2 linked regions of the Homo sapiens genome follow. The protein of the gene in region 1 interacts with the protein of each later gene in a pairwise test. Each region holds a gene or a part of one and is shown on either strand. Other genes may lie near its edges.

Evidence for each region.
Region 2: the proteins of VPS9D1 (region 1) and UBXN11 interact in binary tests that used the Homo sapiens proteins (3 or more experiments, as listed by UniProt).

Annotation. Positions count from the first base shown.
Region 1 is NC_000016.10:89,714,284-89,718,091, forward strand, and holds part of VPS9D1 (VPS9 domain-containing protein 1), read right to left. Parts: exon of another isoform or gene 3,061-3,808; intron 2,622-3,060; exon of another isoform or gene 2,540-2,621; coding exon 2,447-2,539; exon of another isoform or gene 2,342-2,446; coding exon 2,179-2,341; intron 1-2,178.
Region 2 is NC_000001.11:26,292,933-26,296,740, forward strand, and holds part of UBXN11 (UBX domain-containing protein 11), read right to left. Parts: intron 1,400-3,808; coding exon 1,273-1,399; intron 1-1,272. UniProt on the Homo sapiens protein: May be involved in the reorganization of actin cytoskeleton mediated by RND1, RND2 and RND3. Promotes RHOA activation mediated by GNA12 and GNA13.

The sequences.
Region 1 (3,808 bases):
TATTTTATGTGTGGCCCAAGACAATTCTTCCAGTGTGGCCCAGGGAAGGCAAAAGATTGGACACCCCTGCTTTAAAGGCACTATGTGGGTCAAACAGCCAGATTAGTCTGTGACCCATGAAAGGAAGAAGTGTCCTGTCTCCTTTATACAGTTCCCAACAGCCACTCCACCTTGAAAGCTTTGTTCCCTCGTACCTTCCCACTGTCAGGGACAATGGAGGACAAGGAGGAAAGTCAGAGCCTGACGCCTGGCCACCCTGCCCTGAAGCCACATTGCAGAAACAAGGGGACTGGGAAGCCAGGCCCCGCCAGAGCAGGGGCAGGAGGAGTGGACCCTTCTCGTCTCTCCCACTTGGGAGTCACTGGGCTTTTTGCATTTGTGTCTTTGTATCTTTCATCAGTTCTAGACAACTGTCTGCCATTCTAACTTCTAATAATGCCTCTCTCCCATTTTCTTTCTTCTTTTTTTTTGAGCCGGAGTCTCGCTCTGTTGCTAGGCTGGAGTGCAGTGGCACGATCTTGGCTCACTGCAACCTCCACCTCCTGGGTTCAAGCGATTCTCCTGCCTCAGCCTCCCAAGTAGCTGGGGTTACAGGCACGCGCCACCATGCCCAGCTAAGTTTTGTATTTTTAGTAGAGATGGGGTTTCACCATGTTAGCCAGGCTGGTCTTGAACTCCTGACCTTGTGATCTGCCTGCCTTGGCCTCCCTCCCATTTTCTTTCTGGAACTCCAACGAACACGTTAGGCTTTCCATCTCTTGTTTTCTGTCTTTATTTTTTGTTTCTGTAATTCATTCTAGCTATCTTTTGACCTTTTTTCCAATACATGAATTTGCTCTTCAGCTATATCTGCTCTGCTGTTATAAACTTGTCTGCTCAGTTTTGTATGTATGGATTTCTACATATATATAGATATATAACTCATCCTTGTTCCCAGCTAAATTTTTTTTTTTTTTTTTTTGAGATGGAGTCTTGCTCTGTCGCCCAGGCTGGAATGCAGTGGCGCAATCTCAACTCACTGCAACCTCTGCCTCCTGGGTTCAAGGGATTCTCCTGCCTCAGCCTCCTGAGTAGCTGGGACTATAGGTGCCCGCCACCACGCCCAGCTAATTTTTTGTATTTTTAGTAGAGATGGGGTTTCACCTTGTTGGCCAGGATGGTCTCGATCTCCTGACCTCATGATCCACCCACCTCGGCCTCCCAAAGTGCTGGGATTACAGGCGTGAGCCACCGCGCCCGGTCATTTTTTTTTTTTTTAGACAGAGTCTCATTTTGTTGCCCAAGCTGGAGTGCACTGGCACAATCACGGCTCACTGCACCCTCAACCTGTCAGGCTCAAGTGAGCCTCCCACCTCAGCCTCCCTAGTAGTTGGGACTACAGGGGCACACCACTATGCCTAATTTTTTTTGAGACGGAGTTTCACTCTTGTTGCCCAGGCTGGAGTGCAGTGGCACAATCTTCGCTCACTGCAACCTCCACCTTCCAGGATCAAGCGATTCTCCTGGACTCAGCCTCCTGAGTAGCTGGGATTACAGGTGCACACCACCACGGCCAGCTAATTTTTGTATTTTTAGTAAAGACGGGGTTTTACCATGTTGGCCAGGCTGGTCAGGAACTCCTGACCTCAGGTGATCTGCTCGCCTCGGCCTCCTACAGTGCTGGGATTACAGGCGTGAGCCACCAGGCCGCCTGCATTTGCTTGTGTCCGGCCAGGGGATATTCCCATTCTGGGACTCATTTTAAAAACATTCGCTGTCAGGCCAGGCGCAGTGGCTCATGCCTGTAATCCCAGCACTGTGGGGGCCGGGCGCGGTGACTCACGCTGTAATCCCAGCACTGTGGGAGGCCGAGGCAGGCGCATCACGAGGTCAGGAGATCGAAACCATCCTGGCTAACATGGCAAAACCCCGTCTCTACTAAAAATACAAAAAATTAGCTGGGTGTGGTGGTGGGCGCCTGTAGTCTCAGCTACTTGGGAGGCTGAGGCAGAAGAATGGTGTGAACCCGGGAGGTGGAGGTTGCCGTGAGCCAAGATTGAGCCGCTGCACTCCAGCCTGGGTGACAGAGTGAGACTCTGTCTCAAAAAACAAAAAAAAAATCGCTGTCATCAGCTCATCTTTCTCAGCCTCAAAAACCCAATCCCAGGCTCATCCCACCTCCCATCTTGTCCATCTTACTTCTTACAGCTTTGTGACTCTGCCCCCTGAAGCTTCTGGAAGATCTCGGGTGGCAGAAAAGGAGAGAGCTTTCCTCCTTCATCGGAGTATACACGGCGGTGTCGGCCGGCAGGCTGGGGAATGGGAGCAGCTGCAGGCATGGTTGGCTTCAGGCGTGTTTTCCCTGCAAGCCATGGGTAACCAGGGGTCAAGCGGTGGGCCACATCCCACAGAGGAGATGCGGGCTTGGGGGATGCCCCAGGAGAGCCGCCTACTGCAGGAGACCCACCAAGCTTGGCGGCCGTCGACTGGGCCCTCTCCAGACACTGCTGTGCTAGCTTCAGCATCTTGGAGGTGTCGGGGGGCACAGTTTCCCCAGCTTCTGGGGGAGGGACAAGAAGGCTGGTCACAGTCGGCTCTACCACTGTTACTTACTGCTGAGATAAAATGAGGCAACGGAAAAGGCAGGCAAGCCCACTGCCCCCCTCAGCACCCCCACTGACCCCGGGCAAGCCCACTGCCCCCCCATCCCCTCACTGACCCTGGGCAAGCCCACTGCCCCCCCATCCCCTCACCCCGGGTAAGCCCACTGCCCCTCCCGTCCCCCAACTGACTGACCCTAGGCAAGCCCACTGCCCCCCCATCCCCTCACCCCGGGTAAGCCCACTGCCCCTTCCACCCCCCACTGACCCCGGGCAAGCCGACTATTCCTCATGGACCCCAGGCAAGGCCCCTGCCCCCACCATGGACCCCAGGCAAGTCCCCCCACCCACGCATTTCTAATCATCTGCCCTGGTTTTGCCTCCTGAGTCTGCTAAGGCTGTGGGCCCCTCATCGAGGCCCGTCACAGCCTCGACCCTAAACAGGCCTTTAGTGCTCACTCAGCTTCACTTGCAACTGCAGGCCTCTGGGAAGTGGCCGTTTTACAGAGACAAGGACGTGCTGAGGGGATCGCCTCACCCATCTCCCACCGGCTGTGTCCCCAAAGTCCTGCCTTCCCGTAGCTTGGCATGGAGCACCTCTGCGCGACCATGGACCTGCTCACACAGCCCTTCTGCGCGCCGTGGGAGCTGCCTCTCTGTGACTCGCCCCTGGACCCACCGCCCCAGCGCCTGACCCACCTCCCTGCTGCCCTTCACAGAAAACTTCTCATAGACTCCCATTTTCTCATCCCGCCCCGATTTAGCCCCCGACTCCCCCCGGAAACTGCCCTTACCCGTCCCCACCTTGCCAGACACGGTGGGCCACTGGAGTTCCTCTGTCTTCTGGGACTTTGCTCTCCCCAGGGGATCCTCTGCCACTCCTCCACCCAACTCCTCAATCTTGGAGCGCCAGAGCTCAGCCGAGCTCACCGGCTCCCTAGGGAGCTGGGGCAACTGTTAGCTCCCCCTGACCTGTGTGATCCTACGTCCAGTGGCTGCCCCGACCTCTGTGATCCCACGTCCAGGGGCTCCCCCGACCTCTGTGATCCCACGTCCAGTGGCTCCCCCGACCTCTGTGCTCCCACGTCCAGTGGCTCCCCCGACCTCTGTGCTCCCACGTCCAGTGGCTCCCCCGACCTCTGTGCTCCCACGTCCAGTGGGTCCCCCTGACCTCTGTGATCCCACGTCCAGTGGCTCCCCCTGACCTCTGTGCTCTATGTCCAGTGGCT
Region 2 (3,808 bases), on another chromosome or scaffold:
TGAGATCTGGGGGGATCCAGCCAGAGCCCAGGCCTAAACAGGAGGCAGGATTCTCATGTTTGGAATCTGGGTTTTTACCTAGCAGGAAACCAAGAAGGTGTCGTCATCTTCCAAATGGGCCCCTTGGAAGCTGTGCTCCTATTCCCGTGGGACCCCTGCCCTCAGACTTTGGAAACAACAATGGCTGCAAGGCCAGAGCTAGGCGCTCTGCGTTTAACTCATTTGCTCCTTGTAACTCCCAGGGAAGAACACTCCTGTTTTGTTGATGAAGTGAATAGAGGTCATCTGCCCAAGTCACACTTGGGATAGGAGGTAGAGTCGAGTTGAGGGCCCAGGTGTGCCTGACTCTAGAGCCTGGAGAAGCATCTTTTGGGTGACAATCTCCATTCTTTGAAGAGAATGGGCCTGGTTTTCAGAAATGGCCAGTTTTATGGACCCAAATCTGTGGGTCTATAGGAGGGGACTGTGGGAGGAATCCCTCTAGATATTAGAAGTTAAAAATAAGACATGGTAGGCCAGGCGTGGTGGCTCACACCTGTAATCCCAGCACTTTGGGAGGCCAAGGTGGGCAGATCACGAGGTCAGGAGTTCAAGACCAGCCTGGCCAACATGGTAAAACCCCGTCTTTACTAAAAATACAAAAATTAGCTGGGTGTGTTGGCACACACTTGTAATCCTAGCTACTCAGGAGGCTGAGGCAGGAGAATTGCTTGAACCTGGGAGGCAGAGGTTGCAATGAGCCAAATCGTGCCACTGCACTCCAGCCTGGGTGACAGAGCAAGACTCCGTCTCAAAAAAAAAAAAAAAAAAAAAAAAAAAAGACATGGTAGGGGCCCACAGAACCAGGTGGATTCCAAGGGCCATAAGCAAACCTGGAGAGGGAGGCCAAACCTGGGAATTTGGCAGCAGCTTCTAGAACAGAAGGATTGCCTTTTTTTAAAACGGCAACATCTTCCAGATTGGTGGCGTTTTGTAGACTATGTGACCTGAGGCAAATAAGGCCTTGCTACCTCTTGTATCTCTGGGTCTCTGACAGATGAGCAAGAGAGAGCAGAGGTAGGACCGTGGAGAAGTGGGCCAGCAGGTTAAGTGGTCAGTGATGGAGGCCAAGGCTGCTCCCACATTGTCTCAGGGGCAAGTTGTGGGCTCTCAGGGCGTCTTGGGTCAGGGACCCGGGCACGAATGAGATAGGCCTCTGGGGAGCTGCCGGCCAACAGCAAACTGTTGGAGAATTCCTTTTGAAGAGGGCCTGGGGCAGACGCCCTGCTCTACCTGGCTTCCAGAACTTCTTGGCTGTCATCCAGTCCCTCTCGCCATGCTCTGAGACTGTCTTGCTCTCTGAGTCCTCCTGGTCCATGGGCTCGCCCACCCACTGCAGGCCATAGTCACTGAGGAACCGCTGTGGGAAAGAAGGGGGAGATGCGGGGCACCGTCAGCTCAGCCCCTTCCCAGGGAAAGGCAGTGTCAGCCCAAAGCCCAGCCTCAGTCTGCAGGCAATGGGGCCCCCAGAGCTGACCAGACAAAGGGATGAGTAGGGGGATCTTGCCATTTCCTGGCTGTGACCTTGGAAAGCCACCTCAGTCCCTAGAGCCTCAGACGACTCCTCTAATAAAATGGAGTGACAGTTCCTGCCACATAAGCTTGTGAGGAGGGCTCAGTAAGATCACTCAGGTCAGCGCCCAGCCCATGCGAGGGCTCGGTAAGGTCAGCCTCCTTGGCTGCAGAAATCACGTGGCCTGGCCCAAGTGTGAGAAGGAGGCAGGGCTGAGGGATGTGAACCATGTGCCAGCCTCCCTAGGGCTTGGCCGCATGTCCCCTCTGCCACAGGAAACTTCTGGACTGTCTACATGTCCACACCCCGACTTCTTTTCTCAAGCCACTCTAACCTGGCTCCATCGCCATACCTCTCTGAAACTGCTCAAGGTGCTGCAACCACCAACCTACCCGCTGCCAAGCGCATGGGCACATTTCTGTCTATCTTTCACCATCTGCTAGTTTTCCTCCCATCTCCTGGGCTGTTCCTTTCCAATTTCCTTCACCGTTTCCCCTTCCTATCCAACACCAACTCATGGGGGCCCAGCTCCATCCACACGCTCTCCCAAATATATACGACAGAACCCAAGTTTGTATTTATGCAGATTTCACCCGAGCTCCAGACTCACATTTCCAACCGTCCACACTTGGATGTCTAATGGCTGTGGCTCTTGTCCCCCTGTCAAACCTCCCCCGTGCCAGGTTTTCCTGTCTCCAGAAATGGCACCCCCTCCACCTGAGAATCCTCTGTCGCCCATTCCTCCAGGATGACCCACAAGGCCTGTGGTGCCCCCTCCAATGCAGCCTGGAACCCATCCACTGGGCTCCATCTGCTGCCACCACCCTAGTTCAAGCCACCGTCATCTTTCTCCTGGACAATCCAGGGGCGGCGCCTGCTTCCCCCGTCCTCTCCTCACCCACACCACCCAACCCCACAAAGCAGGGTGGTCTTTTTGTCATGCCACCTCTCAAACAGAAGCCTTCCAATGGCTTCCCATTTTTTCGGGACAGGATCCAGCCAGAACCACGGGCGGCTCCAATGTGATAAGGCCCCCACGACCTCTTCTCTTTTCCCGTTCTTCTCCTTCCTCCACACAGCCACCGACCGCAAGCCAAGTTATGTGGCGGGAAGTGGCACCTTCCCTGTCTAAGGCCTGGATCCTCTCACCCCATTCCCCTCCTCACTCACCAGACATCATGCCCAATGTCACCCCCGCAGGTGGTCCCCCAACTTGCCTCTGTGGTGTCACCCATTTCATCAAGTCACAGCACTCTCTGTACTTGTGTACCTGTGTACTCGTTTGTTCCCCTCCCCACAGACTGGCAGCCTCATGCAGGCGGGGGACTATGTCTGTCTTGGTCATGCTCTGCCCCAGGCCTGCCCCAAGCAGATCCTCCAGATGAGGCTGTTAAATGAATGAAGTGATAACTGTGTGGCGGAGACGCATGCAAGGGCAGTCATGCCCCTGCCCCGAGGCTCTGGTGCAGCCCTCACCGCCTGTGGCCACTGCTCGGGGACAACCCCAGGTATGAACAGCTTGGAGTGGGAAGGGCTCTCAGCTGCAATTGGAGGTTTGCTGCCAAGGTTTTAAATTAGATTGGGACTTTGGAAACCAATTCTGCGTGGAGAGGGAGAGAGGCTGAATCCCAGGAAGAACTTCTGGCAGGGCCCATGCGTGCCTGGGACCCTTCTCTGTGCCTGGTGTCCCTCTAGTTCCCTTGCTGTTTGAATGGGTCTGTGAGCGGGGGAAAGAAAGGTGACTGGGGTCACTGAGTCCCCAGTGAGCAGAAGTCACAGCCAGAGGCAGCAAATTGCTTAACCAATTCAGTGCTAGGTCCTGGGTGCACAGTGACATACAGGAGGAAACTGCTCCCTCCGTCGTGGAGTTCAGAGTCCCACAAGGGAAGAGAGATGAGGCACTGAGAAAGCTCGGGATGGAAAACCTGCCTAGGAGGCCCGGGGGATATGACTGAGGACAGTGGAACTGACCTGGGGGAGGTGGGGAAACATTTCAGCAGAGGGAACAGCAACAGCACGGCCCAAGGCCCTGAGGTGGGAAGCAGCTCCATGAGGTCAAAGACCCAGAGGAAGGGCCTCATGGCTGGAGGGGAGAGTGGTTCAAGCTAAGATGAAGAGGCATGCAGGGGCCAGCCCGCAGGGGCCACAGCGAGGACTGTAGAATTCAGTTCAGTGGGAGCCATGAGGTCTGCTAAGCAGGGGAGAGGCATGTTCAGAGGGCCCAAAAGCAGGGGTGTGCCCCAGCCCCAGACACCT